4 linked regions of the Homo sapiens genome follow. The protein of the gene in region 4 interacts with the protein of the main gene of each other region in a biochemical or structural test. Each region holds a gene or a part of one and is shown on either strand. Other genes may lie near its edges.

Evidence for each region.
Region 1: the proteins of NFIX (region 4) and SOX6 form a complex in vitro, tested with the Homo sapiens proteins (one study listed by BioGRID).
Region 2: the proteins of NFIX (region 4) and TLX2 form a complex in vitro, tested with the Homo sapiens proteins (one study listed by BioGRID).
Region 3: the proteins of NFIX (region 4) and SOX10 form a complex in vitro, tested with the Homo sapiens proteins (one study listed by BioGRID).

The regions. Positions count from the first base shown.
Region 1 is NC_000011.10:16,346,354-16,353,608, reverse strand, and holds part of SOX6 (transcription factor SOX-6), read left to right. Parts: intron 1-7,255. UniProt on the Homo sapiens protein: Transcription factor that plays a key role in several developmental processes, including neurogenesis, chondrocytes differentiation and cartilage formation.
Region 2 is NC_000002.12:74,510,215-74,517,648, reverse strand, and holds TLX2 (T-cell leukemia homeobox protein 2), read right to left. Parts: upstream 3,200-7,434; 5' UTR 2,843-3,199; coding exon 2,443-2,842; intron 2,017-2,442; coding exon 1,779-2,016; intron 1,677-1,778; coding exon 1,460-1,676; 3' UTR 501-1,459; downstream 1-500. UniProt on the Homo sapiens protein: Transcription activator that binds DNA elements with the consensus sequence 5'-CGGTAATTGG-3'. Binds DNA via its homeobox. Required for normal cell death of enteric neurons in the gastrointestinal tract.
Region 3 is NC_000022.11:37,981,311-37,989,536, forward strand, and holds the start of SOX10 (transcription factor SOX-10), read right to left. Parts: upstream 3,246-8,226; 5' UTR 3,029-3,245; intron 2,559-3,028; 5' UTR 2,475-2,558; coding exon 2,047-2,474; intron 1-2,046. Other genes in the region: POLR2F (DNA-directed RNA polymerases I, II, and III subunit RPABC2), read left to right, coding at 4,844-5,002. UniProt on the Homo sapiens protein: Transcription factor that plays a central role in developing and mature glia.
Region 4 is NC_000019.10:12,998,458-13,005,712, reverse strand, and holds part of NFIX (nuclear factor 1 X-type), read right to left. Parts: intron 1-7,255.

The sequences.
Region 1 (7,255 bases), on a different chromosome or scaffold from region 4:
ATTTAAAGCAAATAGCTATAAGAAAGGGAGGAGGTGGTGGAAGTACAGAGGGAGAAATACAAGATAGCAGCACTTTAGTTATTTGTGAAACCAGACTGTTTGGTGTGTATAAAAAAATGTGGAAATTTGGGTTGGTGGTAAAAACCTTTCTTCAGCTTTCACAGACAATTATAATTTATAAGAATTCATGTCCTCATATGAGAGGCTTTTCTATTTCTTTTCCTCAGAAGTTAGGATATATGTAATGTTATATAGTAGTCATATTTTAAGAGGGTATCTAAATTACTCTGCATTCCCTGAAATCAGCTCTAGACGGGTAGTGTGTTAAATACATATTGTTCAAGCTCCTCATCTTGTTTTCTCTCAAGGCTGTTCTCAACACCGACTTTTGTAGTGAGGCAGCTCCAGTTTTGTCTGATATAGCTGGTGTGGTTTCTCTGGTCAGAGATGGAAGGTAGAAATTGGATCTCATATTTCTCTGGGCCTTGAAATAAACGGGCAGTGACATTCTTATTTTATTTCATAATTGTCTGTGTAAGAATATAATTAAATGTTGATCATCTAGGCTAACCAGAAATAGCATGCTAGGAAAAGCATGGATAGTTAACAACCAACAAATATTTGTTAGAAAATTACTGTGTAAAAACTGCAGTGAACCTCTCAGCCTTGTGTGTCAGTAGCTTTAACTACTTCCTCAACCAATTTTGTTGTCAAATTGCCCAGAATGACAGTTAAAAGGATTGGTTAGAGAATTACCTGCTCTATGTTTCTCTCTCTTTTTTAAAGTTGTTAACTAGTAATTACATATCTCAAACTGTAGAAGTACACAGAAAAGAAAAAGATAGCAAATCCTTTTACTAAGCTCTGATTAAATGAGTATTTAGAATATCTAACCAGAATATTCAAAATAAAATTCTACAGGAATGGTATAAATTAGTAAAGAATAATTCAGATAATAATTGAAAATAGTTAATAATTTATTTAATTTAGATTTCAGACACTTTTAATTCTAATAGCATCTGCCCTGGCATTAGACCAACCTGAGTTGAAATTTTGCCCTCTGTATTTACTAGGTATGACCTTAAGCAAGTTTTCATTTTTATTGTTTTAATAAACAGTTTTGTGCCTTGGCTTTCTTATCAGTAAACAGGGATAATGACATTATTTAACTTCTAGAGTTGCTCTAAGAACTAAATGAAATAATACATGTAGCAGTGCTTAGCACAGTGCCTGCCTGGTACTTTCTAAGCATCTAGTAAAAATTATCTATGTATCTTTTCAACCATCTCTTCAACATCCATCCATCCTTCCATCCATCCATCCATCCATCCATCCATCCATCCATCCATCCATCCATCATCTGCCCATTGGTTCATTCATTTATCCATCTTTTTTTATGTTTCTGACAACATAAATTGATTATTTTGGGAGGCTTTCTTTGCCAGGGAATATGCAGAACTTTTAAAATATGAGGTGAATTTATTGTCCAGAGTGTGTGCAAAGAGGAGACACCCCCAGAAACCAGTTTATTTTAAGTCCTTTTTCATGGCTACTTTTTTCTGGTTGAAGATAACACCCTAAATTTATTTCTGCCTATTAATTCAATAATATTTAAATAATTGGGAAGTATTTACTGAGTGTTTCTTTTCACAAAACATTGTTCTAGGTATTGTGGGAATGCAGAGAAAGCTAGGATTTTGTTCTCACCCTTGAGAAGTTTGTAATGCGGTTGGGGTTACTTAGAAAATATAATGATATTATACATTTTTAAAAGATTATGTGAGGTAATATCCATTAAGTGTTGAATGAGTGATATAAAAAGTAATTTCTCACAGATCTTATTAGAGGTGTTTAGAAGAGGGGTAGATCGTAGTTAACTGGAATAGTCTCAGTTGGTTTCCTAACACTAAGAAAGGAAAGTGAGGAAAATAGGGAGAGACAGGCAGAGCAAAGGCTAGGAGGCAACAATAAGTGAAGTTTGACTGGTGAAGATAAATGTATAAAGATTGGTTGTATCTGGATGGAGGGCCTCAAGTGCCAGGGTCAGGAGTTTGGACTTTATTTTGTCATCAGGGGAGAGCCACTGATGTTTTTTGATCAGGAGAGTGGCTTGATGAAGGGAGTAGCAGTTAAGATTGATTTGGTGGAGGAGATACTAAAATAGAGAAAGTAGTTTAGGGTCTGTTGTAAGAGTTTAGGTATGAGGTGTGAAAAAGCCCTGTGCTAAGGTGATTATAAGTATGGTAAGAGAGATGAGCATAAGAAACATTAAAGAATAGCTGATGGAGCTTCATGACTGGCTGGCATTGAGAAGCAAGGATAAAAATGAGGAGGTGGATAGAGTGTTCATGTTTTGAACCTTGATGATTCTGACAGTGGTACTCTTCTGGGTGTGGATGAATGAGGGGAGGTATTGAGGAAAATAGTGATGAATCTAGTTTTAAGGTGTTTAATATGAAATTGCAGAGCATATCTTGGTATAAATACTTAACAGTCATTTGAGGACTGTTGGATTTCTGGGAGATGAGAGAGTTTAGTGTTGGGGATATGGATATAATAATCTTATGACTTAATGAGATGCTTGATAAAAACAGTATAGAGAAATAATAATGTTTAGATTGGCAGTATTAACATGGAGTGGTATTTTCTGTGATTATCTATTCACTTTAATTTAAAACAATAAGCTATTTGCCTATCTCTCCCTCTCTGCCTTTTCCTCCCTCATTCCCATAGTATTGATTGTCTACGATGTGTTGTGCACTGTGCTGGGCACTGGGGATCCAGCAATGAACAAGACAGATGATCCCTGTCCTCATGAAATATACAGAATTAACTTGTTTTTTAATTAAACAAAATATTTTAATGAGTTCTCCTTTTACCCATTTACCATGAGCTTATGCTATGTAAGCATTTATCTCCCAGGGTCTGAAAGATGTTCTCTGACAAGAAGTTTCCTTTTCTTCCTCTCGTTGATACTTTTTATTTTAGTATATTGTAATAAATACTCTGTAGGAGTATAATTTCAGGAATTGATTAAATTACTCATCATCGAAGTTTAGGAAATACTGATTGCAATCCCCTTTGCCTGGGAGGTTTTTATTGTGCTGAGCTTATAAGAAGTGTCTCTTGGAAAAAATTGTATTATATTATTTGAAAGTTCTAAGAACAAGGAAAAAGATGTTTTTCTAAAACCGTCTTATTTCTTACACCCAGACACTTCTCTTAATGATGTTAAGTTTATCTCAAATCAAAATAAAACGTGCAGCTAGAGACTGGACTTCCCCTTTCTCCTGTCGCTTGCTATCCTTGTTTTCCTTCTGATTTAGCCACCGATGTTCAACCAATGTCTTCATCTCATTCTTTCCTCTACTCCTTCGTAATAAAATAGAGGAATGGAGAAAGAGGAACACAATGCAAGACTGAGGAACACCAGTTGAGACTGATACCAGATGAAAGCATTATTCTAATGTCTGGATTTGTATTCTAAGATTCAAGCTCAGGAGAGCCTATGCTCTTGATGAGCCTCAATTCATTTCACTGTCACCCTGGTGTAGTCAGTGCCTCCCCCTTTTTTGCTAAACTGGTCTATTTTTGTGTTAAATGATCATAAATGATGTTATTTAGAACAGAAGTATCTGTTCTAAAATTGGAATGGAATATTAGGCATATCAGGCATTAGCTATAGGAAATATTTCAAAAATGAAATGGTTAAAATGGGAATATCAGGCATTAGCTGTAGGAAATATTGGTAAAATGGCATATCAGGCATATGGTAAAAATGGAATGTCAGGCATATCAGGCATTAGCTGTAGGAAATATTTTCTTTCTTGCTTGCTTTCCCTTCCTTCCCTTCCTTCCTTCCTTCCTTCCTTCCTTCCTTCCTTCCTTCCTTCTTCCTTCCTTCCTTCCTTCCTTCCTTCCTTCCTTCCTTCCTCCCTCCCTCCCTCTCTTTCTTCTGTTTTCTTTCCTCTTCTTATTTATTTATTTATTTTTTTGACAGAGCCTTGCTCTGTCACCCAGGCTAGAGTGCAATGGCACGCTCTTGGCTCACTGCAACCTCCACCTCCCAGGTTCAAGCAATTCTCCTGCCTCAACTTCCTGCAGAGCTGGGATTACAGGCGCGCACCGCCATGGGTGGCTAATTTTCATATTTTTAGTAGAGACAGGTTTCACCTTGTTGGCCAGGCTGGTCTCAAACTCCTGACCTCAAGTGATCCACCTGCCTTAGCTTCCCAAAGTGCTGGGATTACAGGCATGAGCCACCTCAGCAGGCCTAGCTGTAGGACATATTTTCTGATAAAAATGACATTATTGATGGAAAAAGCCCCTATATTTAGAGTATTTGGAGAATGATTAGAGTTTTTGCTGTATTAGAAGGAATGATATAAATTTGAATGTCTTAAATCTTGAGTTAGTTATGAAATAAAATCACTTTTCTAAGAGAGCTTTTAAAATGCAGTTTGTTTGGAGCATTATCTATATTAATTATATTCATTTTAATTTGTATCTTAGGAATCTTTGGAGTGCGGGAGAACCATGTCAAATTTTCAGTCCTTTAATATTAATTTAGCTTCAGGTTACTGAGATCACTTTGGTAGTGAGCCAATATGGTCACCAAATTTGGATGAGAATTCTAGATGCTGAGTGTCTGAAAAACAGTTGTGGATATGTGTCCTATGCTTGGTTATTTTTCTAAACTTGTGTAGAGATATTAAATCACTTTCATGAGATGAATTTTCAGCATCAAAAATATAAGCTACTTTAGAAGACGAAAACGAAGCGTAACTCTCTGTTAAAGAAAAATTAAGACAAAAGCTTTTGAAGTTGAATCCTGCCTGTCCTTTTCAACCTTCAGGAAGGTTGCTAGGCTAGAAAGACATCTCTAAAAACAAAGTTTTTATAATGGAAAATGCGCTGACATACCCTTTAATGATATAGGTTCAAATGGCAGTGATATAATTTGTAGGTCTTTGTGCTTGGAAATGTCTGGAAAGTTGTAGTGCTCTTATTAATATTTGTAGTCACTTTTTATGAATTAGTATTTCTTGTTGTTTTTCATTTTTATTTAATTTAAGATGAATAAATCTTATTATTAAATAACATGAAGATTGCATCATAGCCTTCAGGATTAAAATGCACTCCTTTTTTGGGGAAGAAGATAGATGTGTTTCCTCTGTTGAAAAATTTAGATTTGATATTTTGTTTTCTTCATGGTAATTATGTTTGCACTTTGCTGATCACTAGTTGTGCATTATTACAATGGAAGGTGACAATTTGATTGTCTTCAATTGGAGAAACAAGTAATTTTATATTCACTAAGCTGTCAGGTAACACTAACTCACAGTACTAAGAGCTCCTGGCAATGCAGCTTGGCACCTATATTTAACTGCTTTGATGCTTGTGTAACCTCTGCTGAATCAGAAGTACTTTGCCTGCTGGAAATGATTTTCAGGCTTGTACAATGAGGTTTTCATTAAGTAGACAAACTGAAAATGAACTGCAAAGCCATGGTTGTTTTTCTCCTCCCCTTTTACCTTCTCCCCTTTTCCCCTCCTCTTCCCCTCCCTTTCTACTCTCACTCCCTTCCTCCCTCCCTCTTCTTTCTCTTCTTCTTGTCTGTCTTTGAATAGGAACCTGAAACTTATACCTTATTTCATCACATGAAAGAGTGGACTTGGTAGATTGCCTTATTTAGCTAAAGGAGGACCTCAGAGATTAGTTTCTTTATATAAATTTGTTCAGTGTTTGTGTGAATTTTCATATTTTGAAACAATCTAAAGTATCAATATTCATTTTTCTCTTTTTTTCTGGAAATATTGAAGAGGGAAATTCGAGTTAAGGATGGAAAAGTATACAGTGACAATTTCCTACACTTTGTCTCTGAGAAGTTATTGTTCTGGTTTATGATTTTTATTAATATAATTGGATAAGATATCCTGTACTTGGGCTTCCATATTAATGGGCCAGTTTCACGCTGACAGAGAGATGTCTGTTTATTCACTTAAAAAATTGTAGTTCTCATTTTATATGAAGAGGAAATTCAAAGTGAACTTACATAAATAAATTCATTCTGCTATTATTTTAGACAGCTTTCTTTCACTCCAGCCACACAGAGGTCTTTCGTTGAGCTATAAAGTCATTGTGCTAGATTAAAATCCTCTAAGTTAGTGTATATTTATAGTAGCCATTGTTAGGTTTTACTCTTATTGTTAAGTCACTGAATTTATTTATAAAATCTGGGCCTGGCTTTCCAAAGCAAAAATTCCAAAAAGTTATTGGTAGATAAACTGTGAGAAGACCATATTATTTATATCAAGCAAAAAGTATAGATAGAGGTTACATGAAGTCAAGTTGTTTTGATCCCAGGAAGAAACCAGATACTCAGGGACACTTAATAATTATAGGTTTTCCATAGGCAGTCAGTCAGCAGGCCAGTCATTAGGCTGGCTGCCTGTCTCTTCCAGCAGATACTAACCAATTAGACAGAGGTAGTTACGTGATGTAACATTATCAGGAGAAACAATTCATGAGTCAAAGCATTCCAAGACATATGAGCTCTAGTCCAAAGAACAGTCTTAAGCTACATAAAGTGACAGCAATATTGTCAGCTAAATATAAACTCTAGAAACACAAACTTTGATGACTTAAGAAGAATCTGTTCCAGGTAGTTCTTGTTTTGTAAGAAGCTCAGAGGGCCTTTGGAGACAATTTTGGTGCTTTGCTGTGAAAAATTGGACCCTTAGAAAAGTCAGAATCCATTAATTTAAGCACTTTCTTAGACACACTTCAAGGGCTTCAAATGTATTTCATTTACCTCATCTCCATTGATTTGACAGCTAATTCTAATCAGTGAGTTTTCTTCTAATAGTTACTGTCCTCATGTGTTACCATATCTGTTCTGAAAGTGCTGCTACAAACTCTAGAAGATAGGTTTATAACTTTCCAAGGTAATTCTGAAAACAGTTACCTTCTTTTCACCTGAATTTTCTTAATTACTTAATGGAAGAAATAGAAAAATCTGGCAGAAGCAGAGGGAAGTTTGGAGGTGGATTGGGGGAGAGGAGGTGGTGGTGTTGTATAAAGTAATACAAATAATTAGTAAGCACCTTCCGACTTTACTGGAATGAATTGAGGAATGTTTTAAAAGGAATGTCTTCATTTTAATGTCTAGAATTAGGATGTACCATGCCATCCTCCCTTCCCCAAGATCCTTGAATGTGGAAATTAGAGATAGAAGAAGAGGGTTTTAAAATCA
Region 2 (7,434 bases), on a different chromosome or scaffold from region 4:
TCGGAATTTTTTTTTTTTTTTTTTTTTAGACGGAGTCTCGCTCTGTCACCCAGGCTGGAGTGCAGCGGTGCAATCTCAGCTCACTGCAACCTCCACCTCCCGGGTTCAAGCGATCCTCCTGCCTCAGCCTCCTGAGTAACTGGGACTACAGGCATGTGCCACCATGCCTGGCTAATTTTTGTATTTTTAGTCAAGACAGGGTTTCACCGTGTTAGCCAGGATGGTCTCGATCTCCTGACCTTGTGATCCTCCCGCCTCGGCCCAAAGTGCTGGGATTACAGGCGTGAGCCACCGTGCCCTGCCTGCCCTTGGACTATTGACTTAGGTATTCTCCATCATCTTGCACATTGCAAAGGTGGTTGTCGAATTTGGTGGAAAGGTTTAGTCCTTAGAACTCTGCTTTTCTCCTCAAGAGTTCCCTCCCTCAGAGATTCTATCTGTTCTCATTCATTCTATCTAGGTCCACCTCTATGTGGATGTCAGCTGATCTCCCTCAAAGGCACTTCTCCAGGATTTATTCTCTCTAGGTATAACATTTAGTTTTGCCTATACAGTTAATTTTGCTCCAGTCTTCCCAATTTCCCTTTCATCATCCACAGCACCATTGATTTCCTGATGCTGCACATTTCCAGTCTTGGAATTACCTTTGATTCTTCTTAAGCTTGTCACTTCCAAATTATTTTCCAAATTCTCTTCACCCTAACTCCACTGGGCCCATTAACTTTGTCCACTGTTTCCTCCTCTCCCTTCTCTGTCCCTATGTGACACCGGAGCCAGATTTTCTCTTTCGTTGGGTGTGTAAGTATCCGACTCGCCTCCTGCCCGGGCGTGTTGCCGGAGGATGTGGCCAGCAGGCTGAACACACATGACAACGTGAGGCTCAAAGTCAGGAAGGAATCCTTAGCGATTATTTTACAGTTGAGGGATGAGATGCCCGGGGTGGACAACCCTCTGGTTTCGGTCACAATCAGCCAGCCTCTCGCGCTCCAGCACCCCCTCTATTGCTTCGCCGTGGTCGGTGTCTTCTTTCCTTCACACCTTTGGTACAGACCCAGCCGGCACCGCGCGCAACGCCGCTAGAGCCCCTCAGAGCCCCAGCTCCCGACCACCCGCCGGAGAATTTCGAGTCCCTCAGGAAAGCAGCTCCCATTGGCCAGCCCGGCCCCCTCCCCGCACCTCATTGGCTACTGTCCTGCAGGTCCCGCCCTCTCGGCGCCTCAGGTTCCAGCGAGGGCGTAACGGCAGTGAAGTGAAAAATGGCGGGAAAGGCCGCCTCTGAGCTGGCCGTGCATCTGCGCAACGCTGGCTTGGGAGCCGGCCGGTGGTGGAGGAGCCCTCGACGACAGCCTCAAGGCCTGCCGCTCCTCACGCGCCCGGCTGCCACTAGACCATGGACGCAGGCAGCCGCGCGCTCCACCGCTCCGGGCCCGGCGCTCCACGCCGATCGGACGGGCGTCGCTCACACCACCGAGGCGAGCCCGGACACTGAAGCCACTTTGTTGTCCTCGGCCCAGGGCTGCAGGTTCTGCAGCGCGAAGAGCGACGAGTTGTGCAGGCAGAGAGGGTCCGGGGGCAGCGGCGGCCGCAGCGGCCGTGGCAACGCGTCCTGCTGCAGATGCAGGAGCAGCCGGCCCGCGCGGTGCCGCTCGGCCTCGCGCTCCTCCGCCGTCTGGCGCCTAAGGGAGGGAGACGCGGGGTCAGCGGGGCGCCCGCCGCGTCGCTTCTCACCAGGCCCTGCTCGGGAACCCCAGTCCGCCCTCGCCCGCGCCGCGCCTCACCGCCACTTGGTGCGTCGGTTCTGGAACCACGTTTTGACCTGTGCGTCGGTCATGCGCAAGGCCTTGGCCAGCGCCGCCCTCTCCGCAGAGGCCAGGTACTTCTGGCGCAGGAAGCGCCGCTCCAACTCCAGCACCTGTGAGCGGGAGAAGGACGTGCGCGGCTTCTTCCGCTTCGGAGGGGTCCGGTTTTGGTAGGGGTGGCCTATGCGGCGCGTCCCAGAGAAGGGCGAGAGCGCAGCTACCGGGAGGAAGAAAGACCAGGGCAGGATTTGCAGGGTGGCCCGAGGTGCCACTGAGAAGGCCGCGCGGCTGTCCAGGCCGCAGAACTCCCGCGCCCTGTCCTTACCCGGGCCCTAAGCATCAGCCGAGCCCTATAGCCAAGAAAGGCCCTTCCCCTGGGATGCGAGGGAGACGTCCCCTGTAACTTCACCCTCCCCTCCCCACGCGTGGACAGTGGGACTACAGAGGAGGGCGCGGGCACCGACGGCAGCTCCCTCCCCATCACCTCTCGGAGGCAGGACCCAGAGATTTGAGTTGGGGGAGGATCCCCTGGGAGGATCTAGTGGGAGGTGTGAAAGGGGTCCTTGAGTTGGAGCAGAAAGCTAAGAAATGAGGAGACGGGGTCAGAGTCGGGCGTGACGCTGGAGGGGTCAGACAACCTCACCCGTGAGCCGGTCCTTGGCAAAGCGGCGGCCGCTGTCCATCCAGGGGAAGGTGAGTCCCGCTAGGCCTCCGGCGCCGCCCAAACCCGAGGGCCCAGGCACTGCAGGCGCCCCCCCAGCGGGCGGCGGCACAGGCAGCGGGCGGTGCGCAGGGACGCGGATCACGCCGCCTGGGCCCACTCCGGAGCTGCCGGGCAGCGGGGCAAGTGAGCCGGCGGGACCGTAGCCCGAGGCTCCGTGGTATCCACCCGAGAACGCCCCATTCTCCCCATGACCCTGGCCCCCGCGACCCAGGCCTAGACCGCCCCCTGGGGTTTCGGGGCCGCTCAGGATCTGATCGATGCCGAAGCTGATTGGCTCGTGGTGTGGGAGGTTGTGTGGACCCAGCATCCCCGGCTCCATCGGTCTGGGCCGAGGAGAACCGCCGGAGGTTCGGTGGTTGGGGAGGATGCCTCAGGCAGCGCCAGAAGCCCAGCGGCGGCGCGCTCCGGAGAGTGGCCTCAGGGGCCCGCGGGGCTGGCCAAGGCAGGGCGCCGGGGTCCCCGAAACAGCAGCATCCCTGTGCACCCGGAGCAGCCGCGCCCGTGCCAGCCGCTGCCGGGCGTCAGCGCAGGGACTTGCATCCCGGGGGAGCACGGCCAGCTGGGGCCCCTGGAGCTTCCTTGCTGGCTCTTAAGCGCAAATAGACGCTGGGCTGCCGGCGCCGCTGCCCAAGTCCCGGGTGGAGAGGGTTGGCCAGCTCCGGCTGGGGCAGTGACTGACGGATCGGCCCGGGTGGGTAGTGGGGGCTGGGGGTAGGGCAGGGGCGGGGCCCAGCAGTTAAAGGGGAAGGGACGCCTGTTTGCGCCAAGCGCAGGGGGAAGGCTGGCTGGCGGAGATGTGCGGGGAGGGGGACAGGGGGCCAGGGTGTTAGGAGCCAGGCTCAGCGCGGGAGGGGCCCGAGCATGGGCCGCTGAGTCAGCGGAGATGCTCACCGCGCCTCCATCCTTGCTGGCCTCCGCCTTTGGGCGGCCTCCGCCTTTGGGCTGCCTCCGCCTCACCGGCTTCCTCCGCAGGTGCCTCCTCCCCCAGCCCCCACTCTTCGCCTCTCGATGGATCCTTCTGGCCAACTCCCGGATTCGTTGTGGTCCCCGCCTAAATGCTCTCGAAGACCAAATCTCGTTGTGGTTTCCCGGCTGCGTAAGAAGCGGCTGGGGAACGGCGCCCGGTGAGCTGCAGGCCCAGGAAGAGAACAGGTGTGGGAAGGGGACGGCAGGGGCTAAGGGCGGGGAACGGCCGCTTTGGGCTGGCGATCGTGGTGCGCCTTCTGGCCTCTCCTGTAGGTCCCCCCAGCCCTGTTCATGCGCACCGGTAATTGGTGTCCTGTGTTTCCTAGAATTTCGATTTTCCAAAATCCGTGTAAAACGGACCATGGCTCAACCCGGGCCAAATCAGGCCGGCGGGTTCTTGGGGCTGGCACTTACCCCCGGACCCCAAGTGCAGGGAGTCCTCAATGCAGGACTCTGCCCCTCCATTCTGTGCCTAGGAAGTCTGTTCTCACACTCTTCCTCCTCAACGGCGGGAGGGCGAAATCTCGCCACGGGGGACACGTGGGACCTCACTGAGGCCTTGGTTGGATCCTGGCCGCCTTGTTTCCCATAAACATTTTACCCCACCCAAACTCAAAAAATGGCCTGGAGCTGTCAGAGAAGGGAGGTGGGGAAAGACCTAAGCCGCTTGGTGACCTTGTGACCTCTGGCCATGAATCCAGGAGCCGGGAGTGCGTGAACTCTGCGTCCTTCCCGGGGATGGGACCCCCGCGGGCGGGCCCCTGAGCCTTAGACCCGCCCCCGCCGCCGCCCTGCCCGGTGCAGGCCGCGGTAATCGGGTTAGCTGGGCCGGAATTACATTACCTTCCCCGGCCCGCCCCGGCCCCCGGGGGGGCCCTGGCGCCTCTGAGCCGGTGAGACTGGGCTCAGAGAGGGGGGCGCTTCTACCATCCTGCGGTGGCGGTGGCGGGTGGGCACCAACGAGCAGCTCAGCCTACCTCTGACACGTGGTGGCCAAAGGACCTTACCCTGCTGTGCCAGCCCTCTACCCTCGTCCCGAGCCCACCCCGCTGTTCAGCTCCATCCTGCTGGTTCCCGTGTGAACCGAAATGCTTTGTAAGTCTACTAGCTGGATCTCCCTGGGAGCACTGATCTTCAAACTGATTCTCCAGGATCCCCTGGGAAAGACTCTGCCCCCTCCTTTCTCCCCAGCAGATGGGCTGGCAGCCTGGCGCCTGGGGCAGGGTGAAGGGGTCTTTTCTCCCCTGGGAACCAGGAATGATATTTGGGCATCTGGGCAGAAAGATAAAGAAGAGAAAGAAGGGTGAGCTCTGTCCACCAGCCCTTCAGTGTTCTCTGAAGCCTTATATCTAGAGGAGGTGAACCATAAATGGGACAGAGGGCAGTGGGAGGAATAGTGGGCATTAATATGTGTCAACCTGCCAGGCGCGGTGGCTCACGCCTGTAATACCAGCACTTTGGGAGGCCGAGGCGGGTGGATCACGAGGTCAGGAGATTGAGACCATCCTGGCTAACACGGTGAAACCCATCTCTACTAAAAATACAAAAATTAGCTGGGCGTGGTGGCGGGTGCCTGTAGTCCCAGCTACTTGGGAGGCTGAGGCAGGAGAATGGCATGAACCCGGGAGGTGGAGCTTGCAGTGAGCCGAGATCGCGCCACTGCACTCCAGCCTGGGCAACACAGCAAGACTCTGTCTGAAAAAAAAAAAAAAGTGTCAACCTCCCCCACCTTGACCACTCTACTATCCAATTTGTCCAGCCCCTCCTCAGCCCTGCTAACAGCCCGTTCTGAAAGAGGGTGGGGGCTCCTACCAATTTAGCAGATGTATTTTCATCTTGATGGAGAAGACAGACATTATCACCTCCCGTCTCTTTACAGAAACCCATGCACTTTTCTCAGCAGTAGAGAGGGCTACAAGGAAGCATGAACCTGTTTAGTCCAAATCTTCAGGCCGGGAGCAGTGGCTCATGCCTGTAATCCCACCACTTTGGAATGCCAAGAGGGGACGGATCACCTGATGTCAGGAGTTCAAGACCAGCCTGGCCAACATGGTGAAACCCCGTCTCTATTAAAAATACAAAAAAATTAGCTGGGCATGTTGGCAGGTGCCTGTAATCTCAGCTACTGGGGAGGCTGAGGCAGGAGAATCACTTGAACCAGGGAGGCAGAGGTTTCAGTGAGCGGAGATCACCACTGCATTCCAGTCTGGGGAAACAGAGCAAGACTCCATCTCAAAAAAAACAAACAAACAAACAACAACAAAAAAAACTTCCTTGGTACCAAGGGCTGGATTCCTCCAGATGGGAGCAGGAAACCTAGGGAGACAGCAAAGAAATATAATCTCTGAAGAGGGCTGGTGTGCAGGTTAGGAGTTTGCTAGTCCCATTCTCTGCTCTGAAGGTTGAGTCTGGGGGCAGGGGGGCAGGGTAACCAGTGTGTCTCCAGCCAACCTAAATAAATCCTCCTTGAATGAATCAGTGAGTGAATCAACAAATGAAAAAAAGGCAACATCATGCAGACCCGTACACCCCTGCCGTTTGAGTTCAGCACAGATGGTACTGCCACCCAGGGACTGTCCAACTAATCCTTTAAGGAGAATGGTCACAAACTCAGTAGTTCATACAAGTGTTCTGGAGAGTTTTTAAAATATTTTAGTGCCCCACTTCAAGAACAGATGGCATCCAGTTACGTCACCCAGACCACAGTCCTAGGACTTTCTCTTTTTTTAAGAGACAGAGTCTCGCTATGATGCCCAGGCTGGCTGGCTGGCCTCAAACTCCTGGGCTCAGACAATCCTCCCACTTTGACCCCCTGAGTATCTAGAGTTACAGGTGTGCACCACCACCCCAACCTGGCTTGAAATGTCCTTTCTTGCCTCCTTGTCTCTGATTCACGGGGAAAGGATGGTTCCTGCTGGTTTATATTCAAGATTGGCTAGGCGCGGTGGCTCATGCCTGTAATCCTAGCACTTTGGGAGGCCTAGGTGGGTGGATCACGAGGTCAGCAGATTGAGACCATCCTGGCTGACACGGTGAAACCCCGTGTCTACTAAAACTACAAAAAATTAGCCGGGCTTGGTGGCGGGCACCCGTAGTCCCAGCTACTCGGGATGCTGAGGCAGGAGAATGGCGTGAACCCGGGAGGCGGAGCTGGCAGTGAGCCGAGATCGCGCCACTGCACTCTAGCCTGGGTGACAAAGCGAGACTCCATCTCAAAAAAAAAAAAAAAAAAAAAAGACGAAGATAGAGGTGCTGGAATGAGTGCCCCCTCATACACACTGCTTTGGATCTGTCTCACCATGTCCTGTGTGTCCGTGGCTCTCATCAACTTAGTCTTTCCTACCCCTCAGCTGTCTCAGATCTTTATCATCTGGACAAAATCTTTGCCTGAGTCTTCAAGAGAGATCATGCTTTTCCTTTCCTTTTTACTTCATGCCTACTGCCTCCATTTCATCATGATTTATTCTTGTTTTAACTCAGTGCAAGCTGCCTTCATTATAGTAACCCTTTCTCAGAGAGCTCCAGTGTTCAGTATCCCTCCTCCAGGACTTCCCTGGCATGTTTTACTTTGTTGGTCATCAATTATTTTTTGAAGTGTCCCTTCTTTTTGCTTCTGTAATATCTTATTCCACATCTTTGGACTTTCGTAGTCACTGCTTATGTTTTTCCTCCACTGATTTTCCTTCTTCCACTGAAGACTGTGAGGATTCTTCAGAGCTCAGACTTAAGCTTTCTTTTTTCTTTTCTTTTTTTTTTTTTTTTAAGACATGGGATCTCACTCTGTCGCTCAGGCTGGAGTGCAGTAGCATTATCACGGTTCACTGCTGCCTCAACCTCCCAGGCTCGAGCAATCTTCCTAACTCAGCCTCCCAAGTAGCTGGGACTACAGGTATGCGCCACCATGCCAGGCTAATTTTTGTACTTTTTGTAGTGACGGAGTCCCAC
Region 3 (8,226 bases), on a different chromosome or scaffold from region 4:
CCCTCCAGGGTCCAGGGAGCCACCCTCTGTTGGCATTGCCTTTGATCCTTGCCATGGTTCTGGCCCCATCCTCCCATTGGGATTGGGTCCTCAGCAAGTAGTGCCAGTTTTCCTGACTGCCACACCTCAGGCTGGCCCCTGTGCACACAGCTTGAGTGATGGCCAAGAATAAGTCCTCCTGAAGGGAGTCCAAGCCCAGGGTTCTGGGCTGGGGGAACCTGGGGACAGGGACAATGGAGGAGCCAATCTTAAACCCTTGGCAATGGGAGATGGAGGGAAAATGAGGTCCGTCCTTGCTTTGACTCTCGTTGGGCTCGTACTGTGGTCTTCTCATGGTCCCCAGAGTCTGCCCTATCTGTATGTCTCTCCTGGTTGTCTGTTTCTCACTTGCTCTTTGTCCCCTGGCACTAAAGATACTGGCCTGGGCCAAGCCCCACCCAGATCTGGATGGACCTTGGGTGGAGGAGCTAGCTGTGACCTCTGCTCTTGGGCAGAACTGGGCTGTCTGGGTCCACACAGCGGGCTGGTCGCTGAGCCCTGGGCCTGCCCTGGGTGAGCAGGGCACTGAGGGCTGAGAAGGGGCAGGGGAAGGGGCACCAGGTCTTCAGCAAACACATGGCAAGAACAGGCCAGGGGGCGGGATGTGAATCTTTTGGTCTCTTGGAGATCCTCCTGCACCTTCTACCACTCTAAGCCTCTAGACCCAATCTCTACCCAACTGTGGCTGGCAAGGGGGAGGGCAGCGGAAGAGAGCCGGGCTCCTCTGACAAAGCCCTAATTTTCTGGAACCCAGATGCTCCTCACTCTTGTTCTCATCTTCTTGCTTCCCCCCAACCTCCTGACCACTCCTCAAAGTGTAGGTGATCCACCACTGTCACCAGGGTCAGGGGAAGTCCTCTGGACAGAGAGTATGGGAGTCCTGGGTTCTGGCCCTGGCTCTGCTACCAACTTCTATGTGACCTTTGTGATTCCTTTGCCTTTCTGGGCCTGTCTCTTGGTCAGTCTAGCGAGAATCAGGTGACTGCTACCGGCTCACATCTCCTGGAGTCCCTGGTCTCTTTCAGAGCTGCTCTGGCACTCCCGGGTGGGAGTGGGGGACTGTCTTGTTCCACACATCCCCAGGAGGCCTGGCTGAACCCCAGACCTGAGTCGAGGGTGGGATAATTGCTCCCTGCGGGGGATGTTTTTCCTAGAGGTGTGGGCTGGTCCCAGGGAACCTGGGACTCTGAGGGCCCCTGGGCAGGAAGGAGGCCAAGGTTTCCTTCTGGCCAGAGTGCTCAGCTCCAGCTCTGGGGCAGTGGGGAAGAGGTTGCTCAACGTTGGGGTGGGGCCCTGGCAGGGAAGATGGCGCCGAACTGGGAGAGGGAGGAAAGAGATCAGCTTGGTGACTCTGGGGCAGGGCAGGAGGGGGAGCCCCTTACTGTGTGTCCTCTCCCTAGGAGGATGAAGAAGCCCCCAACTCAAAGGAGGGTGGCGTCAGAAAGTCCCAGGGAAGAGCCCTAGGATAGGATGAGGTCCCGCAGCAGCAGATTTGTCCCGCAGTTCTTCATCCCTCACTCTTCCAAAGACTCTCATCTGAATTCCGTTTTCTTTAAACCTCCCCTGAGTTCTCCATCTGACTGCCTCAGTTTCCCTGAATCTCCAGCCAACCCTTTGGTTCTTTCCAAGCGTTTCCCTCGTATCCTCCTGACCACAGCAGCTGGTGGCATAGTGTGCGTATCTGTGGGCAGGAGTTAGTGAAGGCCTCCTTCCCTCCCTCCAAAGCCCCAGGCCCCACGGTCTGCCACCCGCAAAATTCCAACCACGAGGGGGCGCCTTCCTGCCCGCCGCCCCGTAGGGAGACCCGGCCTAGGCCGCTGGAGTTCCGAGTTCCAGGGTCCTTGTGATGGAAGGGCGGGCGCGGCCCCCACACCTGGTCTTCCAGCCCTATCCAAGGAGGACTGCCAGACAGTCCCGCTCTGAGGTGCAGGAGGCCGGGCCGCCTCGGCTACCCTGAATCCACCCGAAGCTAGAGGGCCCGAGCCCGGGGGGCGGTCGGGTGCTCACCTCCAGAGCTTGCCCAGCGTCTTGCTGAGCTCAGCGTTGTGCAGGTGCGGGTACTGGTCCGCGAGCTTCCTGCGCGCTGCCTGAGCCCACACCATGAAGGCGTTCATGGGCCGCTTGACGTGCGGCTTGCTTTTGCTGGCGCCGTTGACGCGCACGGGCATGGGCACCAGCGTCCAGTCGTAGCCGCTGAGCACCTGGCTGACGGCCTCGCGGATGCACACGGGGAACTTGTCATCGTCCGCCTCGCCGTCCTGCTGCTCCTTCTTGACCTTGCCCAGCTCGCCTGGCCCCGGGCTGGCTCGCAGGCCCGATCCGCCGCCGCCGCCGTCGGGCCCTAGCGAGGGCGCGCTCCCCGGGGACAGGCAGCGGGGCTCCTCCGAGCCCACGGGGCTCAGCTCCACCTCCGATAGGTCCTGCTCCTCCGCCATGTCGCCCCCGGCCGCCGCCGCCGCCGCCTCGGCCGCCTCCCCCGGGCCAGCCGCCGGGGTCCTCGCAAAGAGTCCAACGCCCACCTGGATGGAAGGAGGGCGCGATGGAGCGGCCGCGCGCGCAGCCCCGAGGGCGGCCCGAGACAGGACGTGGGCACAGCCCCGAGGTGGCGGCCCTTCCTGCTCCAGCTAAACCCATCTGGCCCCTGGGGCCCACGCACATGCCAGACTCTAGGTGGGTGCGTCCCGCCTCTGTGTCTTCCCACCACCTGGTCCCAACCGTCTCTTGGTGTGGGTGGCTTTTTTTTTAGCCTCCTTTTTTGGGTGGAGGTTTGTTGATGATAAGGAAGAAAAAAACGGAGCCTTTATTTTGCTCTAATCCCGGCCCCTGGAATTTCCCACCTTTTCTCTCACCTTTCCTTCTTCCCTCAGCCTGCCCCAACGGGGTTTAGAGGAGAGCCAGGTGGGGGGCAAGGGCGGGGTGTCGCCTCTCTCCACCTCACAGCAGGGTCCCAGGCCTGGGCGGGCCAGGGAGGAGCAGGCTGCGCACTCACCTCCTCGGACCTCTCCTCCAGTCTGGGGCTCGTCCTTAGGAAGTGGAAAACCGTGTCCCAAGGTGTGCGGTCCAGCTCGGGGCTGGGAGGTGACGCTGGTGGGCTGGGAGGGAGGGGCGGGGGGCCCTGAGCCTCAGGCCACGGCCTCGTTAGGACGGAGCCTGAATCCTTACCACCAACCACCCTGGCCGGACAGCCCGAGACTGACTGAGCGACTGAGCCTGAGCCGCTGCGGAGGGCTGGGGAAGGAAGGAGGGGGAGAGGGGGGAGGGGAGAGGAGGGAGGGAAGGGCAGAAGGTGGAGCCTCCAGGCTTTCCTTCATCCCCAACACTCAGGGCTCCTCCACCCGGAGCCCAGGCCCCCCCACCCAGCTCCCTGCCCTACTGCCCAGGCCCATCTTGCTGAGGCTTATCTTGGGCTTAGTCTGGGAGGTGGAGGGGAGGTTAGGCCGAGGAAGGAAGAGATGTAGGCTGGAGGGTCAGAACCTGTTGGATGGAAGAAAATTGGGCCCAACCAGGACTCCTAACGTCTGCCTCAGGTGGCAGGATGGGCACTTGGCAGGGGACTAGGGAGAGACGTGAAGGCGGTGAGGGTCCTGGGGGCCCGTGAGGGTGGCTGGCCCTAGCTGCTTCGTCTGCGAAATCCTGTTGAGTGCCTAGTGTGTGCCAGGCACTGATGCCCAGCTCCTCACCCTGCCTCCTACCTTTTCCCAGGCAGCCCTTTCTGCCCCATCCTGCACAGTAAGAGAGACTTCTCAGGGATCCCTCTGAGAAGTGCAGAGCCCCAGCTTGACCCCTGGTCCCTTCTCTGCAGACACCCAGCACACGCGCGTTCTGGTCTGGTTCAAGGTGGAAACACAAGACTAAAGCTGCCAGGAGGCCAAGGTGGGACAGGTTGGGGGCCCTCTCTCAGTAGGTCTTAGAGGCATTTTGGGTTGCTACCTACTGGGACCCAGCTCCTTCCACACTGGGCTCACCCTGTCTTGGGAGAGGGTAGGGGAGTCCTAGTCCTGATTGTCACGAAGTCCTCTACTCCCCCACCCCAACAAGGGGTGGGGACTTGCCCTGCCTCTTCCCTCCTCTGCCCACCTCTCCCTCCCTCCCCTTTTCTTTCCTGCCCATCCTCCGTTGACACCTTTTTCTCTCTCTTTCCTTGGCCTCTCCTCCAAAGGTCGCAGTGCTGTTCTCTTAACTGAGGGCAGCCCCGCCGGGGTGTTGAGGCCGAGGTGGGGTGTATGTGGGTTATGTAATGGAGCTGGGGTCGCATTGGCAACCATGTGACGTTCTGAGCTCCTCAACAGCAGGGCAAAGCCCCAAGACCACCCCAAGGGGTCCTGTCTGGAGTGGGCTGCAAAGGGTCTGGGGAGGCAAGGCCTCATGCTTGGGAAAGTCCAAAGGGGTGTAGGGGGTGGGAAATGGGACACAATGAGGTAGTCACACGAGGCAGAGGCATGTTGGGGGTGGGGGGAGCAGACACTGGAACACACACACACACACACACACACACACACACACATGCTCACACACACAACCAGCCAGACAATCGGGCCAGTGTGTCTGGGGCCTCGGAGCCCAGTGAATTAGGAGTTTGATAAGGGTTTTCTCTTTCTCTCGCTTGCTGGCCTTGGACAATCTCCCCCCAGTTTTCCTCGACGCCACCCCCGGCGCTGCCAACCCTCCTCCCCCCGCCTCCCTTCTCTTCCCTGTGCCCAGACTCTTGTTCGGGGCCTTGAAACAGTGAGCTGTCTTTGTTCGAAATACAGGTGAACGGCAATCATGTGATTAACACACACACACATAAAAAGCTTTTTAACAGCGCCCGCTCGGCCTCAGAACCGCCCGGAGAGGAGCCGCCCTGGATGGACAGAGGGACGAGGGACGAGCATCTGCCGTCGTGTCCCGGCTGCCCTGCAGTCGCCTCCAACACCCGCTGCTGCCCGCCCGCTGCCTGCCTGCCTGGCATCTCTCTCTCCCGGTGGGTCCCCACTCATCCTTCCACCCCTCAGTTCCTCCTCTTTGAGGAAAGGACCTCCCCGCTCTCTGCTGTGTCTGTGACTGGCCTGAGACCCGCCTGGGGCAGGAGGGGTGGTTGTGGAAGGAAAGAGCCCAGAGTTAGGAGGTGGAATGTGGGGTCCCACAGCTGCCCCCTCTCTAACTCCCTGCTTCCTCCTTTGCCCTCCTTGGTCCAGCTGTGCCAGGATGGGGGTGGGGGTAGCAGTGGGCACGCTCTGTCTGCAGGAAGCCACGCTAGACAGAAGGGGCCACTCCCTCTCTCTCTCCCTTGTCCCCGCACAGACACTGCCTTCCTCTCAGGGCTGTGCTGGGCTTTTTGCTGAGCAGTGTTGGGTGAGGCAGGTGGGCCTGCAGGGCGGGTGGGAAGGGCTGTCAGATGACCAGTGCTGTGTGTGTGTGGTTGGGGCCCCTGCTGCGAACACATCCCTGCCCACCATGCTGGCAACTGGGATCCCCTCCATCCCATCCCAGGCCCTGGGAACCCAGTGCTCTCCAGCAGGCAAGGGTGAAGGACCCATAGTCATTCCTGAAGAGCAGGGAGCTTGGAGAGGGGAGGGATCCTGGCTGAAGACACCTGGGCCTCTGCCCCAGCAGGACAACAGGAGGGCCAGTGTCACCTTCTCCTCCTTTCCCTGCTGGGGGTGGCAGGGGTCCCTTTACCCCCTCATTCTTGACCCTTCTCCAGGGATGCTTGTGACCTCCTTACCCCACCCCCCATCACCTCTCTGTCCTGAAGTGAGGGTTTGTCACCGTCCATGGCAAGGTGTGGTGTCTGGTAGGCTCTATGACCTGCCTTCTCTCAGGGTGTTTATTCTGCAGCAGAGAGGGGTCTGCGGTCTGAGTGTAATGGTGGAAATCCAGGCTTCCTTCCATGGCCCAAGGAGGCCTTTCCGGAGCAACAGGGTTTTCCTGGGACTCAGCCTGGCTTTTGTTAAGGCAGGTCCCGGATTTACTCAGAAGATGGGCCCCAGAGAGGAGGAGAGGAAAGGAATACCTGTCAGTCAAACGTGAAGCCCACTGATGACACTGCCTGGCAGAGCTGCCTCCGGTCAGCAGTGACCCTTCACCCCCCAGCTCCCAAGTCCTCTTCCTGAGGGAGCTGGTCCGGCTTTATGGAAGGCTCCGCCTGTGTTCCCCCACTGGGTCCCTGGTCCCTCACCTGTCACGTGGGGCGATGGTCACCCTCCCTCCCTGCCTGCCCTGAAGGATACACTGAGATGAAGGTCAGGAAATCTGCTGGCTGCAGAACCAGGGGCCATGCAGGAGTGAGGGATGGTCTGGTCAAGTTGAGGCTCTGCCCCAGCCTCAGTTTCCCCACACAGGCATGAGACTGTCTTCCTGACTTTCAGAGGACAGGGCTGAGATGGGATGAGGGAACACAGGGAAAGCGTTTAGCACCTCTGAGTGCTGTGTGGATGCGACCTGGGGGGTCCTGGCCTCCACTCTTTAATTCTATCTGGACTGTGTGCCCTCCTACCTCCAGTTTCCCTGCGGGGGCCTTTCACAGGGCCTGGCTTGCGGATACGGGGTTTGGCGTAGGGCAGTGCTTCTCAAATGGGAAGGCGCACTGGGATTCTTCAGGTTGGGGTGGGGCCTGAGGTTCTGCATTTCTAATCAGTTGCCTAGGACTGGCTCTAATTCTTGTTGAATTTACAATCACTTGTGGAGTTAAGAAAAACATACTGGGCCTTGGTTGGGTGTGGTGGCTCACACCTGTAATCCCAGCACTTTGGGAGGCCAAGGTGGGCAGATCATGAGGTCGAGAGATTGAGACCATCCTGGCCAACATGGTGAAACCTTGTCTCTACTAAAAAAAAAAAAAAAAAAAAATTAGCTGGGCATGGTGGCAGGCGCCTGTAATCCCAGCTACTTGGGAGGCTGAGGCAGGAGAATCACTTGAACCCGGGAGGTGGAGGTTGCAGTGAGCTGAGATTGCACCATTGCACTCCAGCCTGGGCAAAAAGAGCGAAACTCTGTCTCAAAAAAAAAAAAAAAAAGAAAAAAAGAAAAACATACTGAGCCAGGCGTGGTGACTCATTCCTGTAAGCCCAGCACTTTGGGAGGCCGAGGCGGGCAGATCACCTGAGGGCAGGAGTTCGAGACCAGCCTGGCCAACATGGTGAAACCCCATGTCTACTAAAAATACAAAAATTAACTGGGCATGGTGGCACGCACCTGTAATCCCAGCTACGTGGGAGCCTGAGGCAGGAGAATCACTTGAACTCAAGAGGCAGAGGTTGCAGTGAGCCGAGATCGCACCACTGCACTGCAGCCTGGGTGACAGAGTAAGACTCTGTCTCATAAAAACAAACAACAACAACAACAAAAAAACATACTGGAGCCTAGATCCCACCCCAGACTGGTTGATTCTGAATTTCTGGGGCTGAGGTACAAGCATAAAGTTCCCTGGGAGGTCTTCACAGAGTCTCTGGATCCCTGAGGCTGTGAATGACCCCCTTCCAGAGCCAAAATCACCAGGGATGGAGGAGGGGTCTTGGGTACTGGACCCACCAGCCAGGCAGGTTATACTGGGGTATCCGGAGAGCTTTGGGGTGTGGCAGGGGAGGGCCTATGCACTGGGAAGGTGGAGGGCCGACGGGCACAGGTTAGTGGTCGAGGGCAGCATAGTGACAGACAGAAGCTACCCTGTGGGTCTTCAGCCGAGTCTGAGTGCGCTGGGGTGGCTGTGGGAGCTCCCCTGAGCATTTTCTAGGCCACCTCCACCTTTGGATAAGGCTGTGTCATCCTCAGTCTCGGATGTAGTGGAAAGTGACTTGAAGTCAAGAAATCCTGCCACTAGTACCCAAGGGGCCTTAGGCAGATCACGCTATTAACCTCTCAGGACTCGGCTTTTGCATATGTACGATGTTGATAATCTTATGCACCCTTGATATCCCCAAGTGATGAGAGAATTAAATAAGAATACACACACACATCTCCCCTACCTAGCATAGTGACTGCTCAATAAATGTGAGTCAGAGGAAATCATTTAGCTATTAGGCCAGCACTGGGAGGTGTGGAGGATGCTCACCTCAGGTCAAGTGCACAAGTATTAACCGAGCAGCCACCACGGCCTCACAGTCAGGAGTTTATCATTTGCCTTTTGAATCCTAATGTCAGACCAGGTGGCATTCCTGCTTGGGATGACAAGCTCCTCTGTCATGGGTGGGCCTCCTCTGCCATGCC
Region 4 (7,255 bases):
GCCAGAGAACAAGCTGCAATTTTGTCCCATCGGCAGGATTTAGGGTGGTGACGATCTTGAAGAAAGAGCTCCCCGCCCTTGACCCTAGCACTGGATACCTCTACTGAGTCTTGGTTTTTCATCCATAAAATCAAAGCAGGTTTTCACATCAAGCACAGTTTTAAAGCGTGTGCTGTGAACCAACTCCTCAGATCCTTACCACAGCCCTGCTTCCTAGATACAGAAATTGAGACCCAGAGAGGTTAAGCAACTTGCCTGAAGTTACACAGCTAGTGAGTGGCAGAGCCAGGAGTCAAACCCAGGAAGCTGGCTCTGCAGGCCCCACTCTCCTAATAACAGTACCTGCTGAACACAGGATTCAAGAAGACAAGCTGGGAAGGCACTTAGCAAGGGTGCAACGCAGCAAGCACACAGTTCACATTAGCTGTTGCTACGATTTTTAGGACAAACATTTATTTTGCTATTATCCTATCTTCTTCTACCATTCTGCTGACCGCTGTCTCTTCTTTCTCTGGGGTCAGAACTGGGGAGTCAAAGGCCAAAGGATTAGTGAGACAGCCCCACGGAGGACAGGAGTCTCAGAACTTAGCTTTGTTGGCCAGGCACAGTGGCTCACGCCTGTAATCCCAGCACTTTGGGAGGCCGAGGCGGGCGGATCACTTGAGGCCAGGAGTTTGAGACCAGTCTGGCCAACATGGAGAAACCCTGTCTCTACTAAAAATACAAAAATTAGCCAGGTGTGATAGTGCACATCTGTAATCCCAGCTACTCGGGAGGCTGAGGCATGAGAATTGCTTGAGCCTGGGAGGCCAAGGTTGCAGTGAGCTGAGATTGCACCACTACACTCTAGCCTGGGCAACAGAGTGAGACTGTTTAAAAAAAAAAAAAAAAAGAACCTAGCTTTGTCCCCATCCCTTCTCTCGGTGGCTGCCAGGAGCAAGGAGGTGAGGGTGGAGCCCTCGACCACGGAGTCTAGAAGACTGCGAGTGTCCTGGGCAGGGATGGGCATGTGGTTTTTCCAGGCTTTGTCTCACCCCAGGCTTCTACAAACCAGGGCAGGGATTTGGGGCTCCCAATTCTATCCTGAGAAGCTGGGGTGGCTGTAGCTGCTGCGCAAAGACAGCTGGTTGTGGCTGACAAGCAGAGGGGAGGTGCCACCAGGGCAGGTCTCAGCTCTCAGGCACCATTTCCAACCACTGCCAGGTGTGGCCCAGGTGCGAATATGTGTGGGGGTGTGGCTCTCGTCCCTGTGTGCTGGGGTAACACTGGACTGTGTACATGGCACGCCGACTGTGCCTGGGTTTGGCAGGGGAAATGGGGTATATATGCGACAATGCCTGGGTCCTAGTGAGGGAGAGTGTGTGTGTGTGACACTGTCAGCTGGCGTCTTGTTTGGGTGTGACTGTGTATGTGGGTGCATGTGTAATGAGTGTCAAGGGTTAGCTGTGCCTGTGTGTGTTACTGTGTATCTGGGGATGCATGGCAGGGTTTCCAACCTTGGCACTACTGACATTTGGGGCTGGATCATTCTTTGTGGTCGGCGAGGGTTGAGGGGTTCCATTGTAGGGGACTGAGCAGCATCCTGGGTCTCCACTCACTAAATAGCACCCCCTCCACAAGTGTGACAACCAAAAATGATTCCAGGTTGGGCATGGTGGCTCATGGCTCCCAGCACCTTGGGAGGCCGAGGCGGGAGGATCACCTGAGCCCAGGAATTCAAAACCAGCCTGGGCAACAAAGCCAGACTTCATCTTTACTAAAAATTTAAAAATTAGCTGGGTATGGTGGTGCTCGGCTGTAGTCCCAGCTACTTGGGAGGGTGAAGCGGGAGAACTGCTTGAGCCCAGGAATTCAAGACCAGCCTGGGCAACATAACCAGACTCTGTCTCTACAAAAAAATTTAAAAATTAGCCAGGTGTGGTGGCATGCACCTGTATTCCCTGCTACTCAGGAGGCTGAGATGGGTAGATCGTTTGAGCTTGGGAGGTCAGGGCTGCAGTGAGCCGAGATCGCACCACTGTGCTCCAGCCTGGGCTACAGATGACAGTCTGTCTCTAAAAAAAAAAAATGTTTCCAGACATTTCCCAATGGGTGAAATCACTCCTGGTGGGTGACACTGGGTTAGGGAGTGTGTGGGGTGTTTTGTGTGTCTGAGAGCGTGTTATTGCATGCATGTGCATGTACCTGTGTGCTTGGTGGCATGTGCGGGTGTATCGGTGCTCATGTGTGTGTTTTGGGCACTGACATTATGACTGAGTGTGTGTGCTGTGTGTTTCTAGCTGTGCCTGTGGGGCTGCATTTGACGGTGGCAGAGCCTGTGTCTGTGCTGTGTGCTTCATGGCATGTGATCGTGTGACTGCGCGTGTCCCGTGTGTCTGCACCCACATGCACGTCCCTGAGTGTGTAATGCCGCATCGATGTGTTCGGGTGTGGCCGGGTGCCTCAAGGTGTCTGTGAGTGAGGGCAAGATTCTTTGTATGGGGACGCCTGTGTCTGTTTGATTGAGGGAGGTGCAGCATGCCAGTGTGTGTCAGCGTGATTCTTTGTGCCCGCATGTGCCAGTGAGAGTGTGTGACTTTGTGTGAGATGGACCCGGAATAAACCCCCCCCCAACTCCCCAAGATGATTCGACCGAAGCCGATATTTGGACGGAACCACCTGGATAATTTGGAACCCATCCCTAGCTCCTGCCTGCCTTGGACTAAAAGGCCCAGGGGGGTCGGGTGCACCTCCATGCTGTCCTTTCCTCCAGCTTGGCTCACACAGATTCAGGTGGGGACAGACAGATCCCCGCTCTTGCCCGATCTGTGCCAGGAAGGCTGGCACTGAGCTTCAGCTGAGGGGGCAGGGTCCTTGGCGATGGTGGTGGGCACTGCCCCCTGCCCACTGCTGGCCACCACCCCCGGCTCCCCTCAGGGTGGGGCCCAGTGGGGGGAGAGCTCCCCAGTGCAACCCCGGCTTCCGATTGGCTGCAGAGCGCCGCAGTGCCCGCTACCCGCCTCCCCTCCCTGGCTGGCGCAGCCACATCGGTAGTGGTGGCAAACGCAACTTGGAGTTCTGGGCACAGCTGCGCCTCACAGAGGCCTGCCAGCCCCACCAGAAGCCAGACACCCCAGCTCCGTGCCCCCGACCCCTCCCTGCCCGCCCGCCCCGCCGGGCAGCTCAGTCACCCTGCCCATTGCCTCCCTCTGGCTGCCAGGCCCTGTCCACCCTGTTCCCTCACCCGCCAGGCCTGTGCCCCCCTGGCCAAGCCCACTCAGGGGGCCCAGGCCCCTGCACGAGGCCACTCCCGCCCTCAGAGGGGCTCCTCGGGAGGGGGGAGGTGGTGAGGAAGGGGGGGTTGGGGAGCTAGCCCTTCTTCCTTTAGTGAACGCGCCCAGAGCTGGAGCCAAAAATCGAGGAGGAGAGATATTCAGACGGAGCCAAGACGCGTTTGGCAGGAGGAGAGAGAGAGGGAGAGAGGGAGCGGGAGGAGGGGAGGAGGGGAGGAGAGAGGGAGGAAAGAGAGAGAGAGAAAGGGGGAAAGAAGGGGGGACCTCAGTTTCCAAATCCGCGCCCTCAGAGCCTCGGAGGGATGGCGGGTGGCCCAGGGGTGTGGGGCCCAGGGCCTGCCTGGCTGTGGGGGCAGCGGGGATAGTGGGCTCAGGCCCACGGAGACAGCCGGACACCCAGCTGGCCAGGCTAGAACGGACACAGGCAGAAGCCAAGATCAATGTGCGCCGGGCAGACAGAGGGAGGCCTGTGGGCGGCCCGAACACACGCCCGCACCTCGCTGCCGCACAACGGGCTTCTGTCCACGCCAGGCCAGGGGCACGGGCGGGGCCCCCAGCAAGGCCACTGCGGCCGCTCAACCTCATGGGAAGGGACTGAGCAGCCAGCCCGCTCCCAGCCGCTTGCCCGGCCGCCATAGCAGGCATCTCACATGGTGCTCGGAGGCCAAGGGAATGCCCAGGAGAGGCGCCCGTGGGGTGAGACCCACAGTGATTGTCACGGGGACAAGCTCAGGAGGCACAGTGATATGAGGGTGATGACACTGGAGACACGTGCGTTGACACGTATGTGGACACAAGTTGACACGGACAGGCCAACACGTGTGTGAGACACACGGATACACTCTTTGCCGTGACGCACAGACACCCAGAAAAACACTGCTGTAGATGTGACGCATGTCGCTGGGACACTGTCACCCCAGATACAAAGCGCAGATACAAAGATGGTGACCGGTACACCAATACCCGTTGACGTGCGCAGCGCCACCGTGACACAGAGACTACATCCGGCACACTGACACGCATGGTGGCACGCTCCCCGACCCCCACTACCAAATACACAAGAGACAGGGCGTGCGATGATCCGTGGAGTCACATGCAGGTAGCACCCAGTGATGGACGCTGGGAGACATGGAGAGGCATGGAGAGGGACCCGGGCAGACACACGCTGCCACACAGACATCCTCGGGAAAATGGTGGCTCTGAGGCCTGACATGCCGATTAACATGCACACCGATCTGGGAGAACCCAGATAGTGGCTCACAGCTGTCCTCCTGGCCCACTTGCCCCCACATCCAGGGCTTTGGGGGCAAGAAAATTAAGACACCCCCCTCCTTTTCCCCACCCCAGCTGGGAGGGAGGGGACAGAAGGCCCATTCTCAGCACCGTGTTGGAGAAAGTGCCCAGCCTCCCCTACCTCTCTGGTCCAGCAAGTCCCCAGATTCCAGCTTCATGGGGGTGGGGGAGACAATATCTCAGCAGATTTAAAAGGCCAGGCTCCCTGTGGGTTAGATGGGGAGGACGGCAGTCAACACACCAACCACGGGGGCATTTTGCCCACAGCCACGGCGCCACGGCCAAACACCCAGCATTGCTCCCACCCGCAATGTGCCCTGATCCAGCCAAGTGCCCACCATAGGGTCCTGCACATATGTCCTGTCTCCATGGCGGGTCCAGGTGACAACGCCCAGGTGCAGACACAGAAAGTTCTGGAGCTTGGGGACGTCCCTGAAGTCATCATCTAGATGCACCGGGTCTCTTTGTCCCACATACATTTGGATGAATGCGTGCACACATACTCTTATACCAGGACTCAGGGCCCCCAACCAGGGTATCTGGTCCTCATGGAACAGTGGAGGCCTCGTCTCTCCCCTCCTGCCCCCCACTCTCCCCCACCATCTCTCCCCTATCTTGAAGTTGTGCCACCCTCTGCTTGGCCTACAGGCCCCCATCCAAAGGTAAAAGAGCTGGGCCATGTGCAAACTCTCATCCTTCCAAACTCTCCTCTTGCCTCCTCCTCCTCCAGGCAGTCCACTTGGATATCTATGGTTGGGAGGTGCTCGATCCTGTCTTCTACCCCTCAGAGGCATCCCTCTCTCAGCTGGGAGGGTCTGGGAGGTTGACAACCAACAATTGGCAACAATTACCATTTATGGAGCACACACTATGTGCCAGGCACCACATTGAACCTAAGTACAGCCCAAGAGATAGACACTGGTTTTTGCCCATTTTACAGGCCAGGAAAATCCTGTGCTTCAGGTCGCAAGATTAGAACATGTAGAGCTGGAGCTCGAACCCATTTCTGTCTGACGGCAAAGCCTAGCCCTTGACTCCGCTCCCGCAGCCTCCGTCTGGGAGCTCTTGAGGCTACACAAGACATTCCAGGCCCTAGAGAGACTGGAGCACCCTGTTCCCGGCAGAGCCCTCGGCTCTGAGCTCGGCCCAGCATCAAAACATCTCACGGAGCCCCAGCTCATCTCATGAGCTACCCCATCCCGGCCCACACCTGGGCACACCTCCCACCCCAGCAGTGGGCATGAATCAGGCAGGGCCAGAGCCGGAGAGAAAATGCCAAGTGCCATGAAAACAGGGCACCAGGCCGGAGCAGGGACAGAGAGCTATAGCTTCGCAGGGACAGAGGGGTGGCCAGAGTGACCCAGAGAGAAAGCTGGGGGAAGGGGGCATCAGGGAAGCCCCAGCCATCCCCCTCCCATGGAAGGAGTGTTGGGGGAGCTATGCAGATACAGAAGTACAGGAACGTTCGGCTGCTTGTATGGCCAGGAAAATGGGCGTAGGTCGCTGCGTGTCTGAGAGCGGGTGTATCCGTGTGTGCGGCCATGTATGTCTTTGTGTGTGTCAGCAAATGTCGGCATGTTTGCCTTTTTATCCCTGTGGCAAGGAGGGGGAAGCACGCATTGGTGCATATTTGTGTGTGTGTGTGTGTGTGTGTGTGTGTTTGAAAAGGTATTTGTGGCCGGGTGCAGTGGCTCATGCCTGTAATCCCAGCACTTTGGGAGGCCGAGGCAGGTGGATCACGAGGTCAGAAGTTCAAGACCAGCCGGGCCAAGATGGTGAAACCCCATCTTCACTAAAAAATACAGAAATTACCCGGGCGTGGTGGCGGGCACCTGTAATCCCAGCTACTCGGGAAGCTGAGGCAGAGAATTGCTTGAACCCGGGAGGCAGAGGTTACAGTGAGCCGAGATCACGCCACTGCACTCCAACCTGGGCGACAGAGCAAGGCTCCGTCTCAAAAAAAAAAAAAATAGAAAAAGAAAAGTTATTTGTGTACACACCTGAGCGAGCCAACTGCATTATGTCTCTGTGTAAAGATGTGTATCCATCCATCCGCCTGTCCGTCCTTGGGTCCATGTGAGCATGTGTGGGGGTGAACACACATTTGTGTCTACCTGTATCCAAGCATGTGCTCAGGGCTCCATGAGTCTGGGAGGTGTCGTGGTCTCCATGTGCCTTCGTCGCTATCTGTATCATCTCGAGGGGTTTGTGAGTGTTTATGTGTGCGCTGGGGGTGGTTGTGAACACAAGTCCACAGTTTCCTGTGTCCATACGTGCGTCAAAGAGGTACTGCTGTGTCGCTAAGCCTACACCAATATACGTGTCCCATTTCAAGAGGTGCGTGTGTGTTAATGGGTGTGTGTGACAGTGTGAACACAAGTCGTCGGTTTCCTGTGTCCGTAGGTCTGTAGGCTCGTCGATGGTCGTGGGTCTGGACATCGGTGTGAACAGGACACTTACATCCCCATCTTGGCGGTGATGGTGGTGTACGTGAGTTCACATCCTGGTTGTGTCTCTGTTTCTTGGCAGGGTTGGGATGGGGATGGGGGTCCATCCATCCACCCCCCACCCCTCTCTCCGCCTGAGACTCAGGACTGTGGCTACAATGGACTCCAGCAGCTCCAGGAACCGCCCCACCCGGCCGCCCTGAATTTCGATGCTTTTTCTAGAAGGAGATTTTTCCCCCCGCC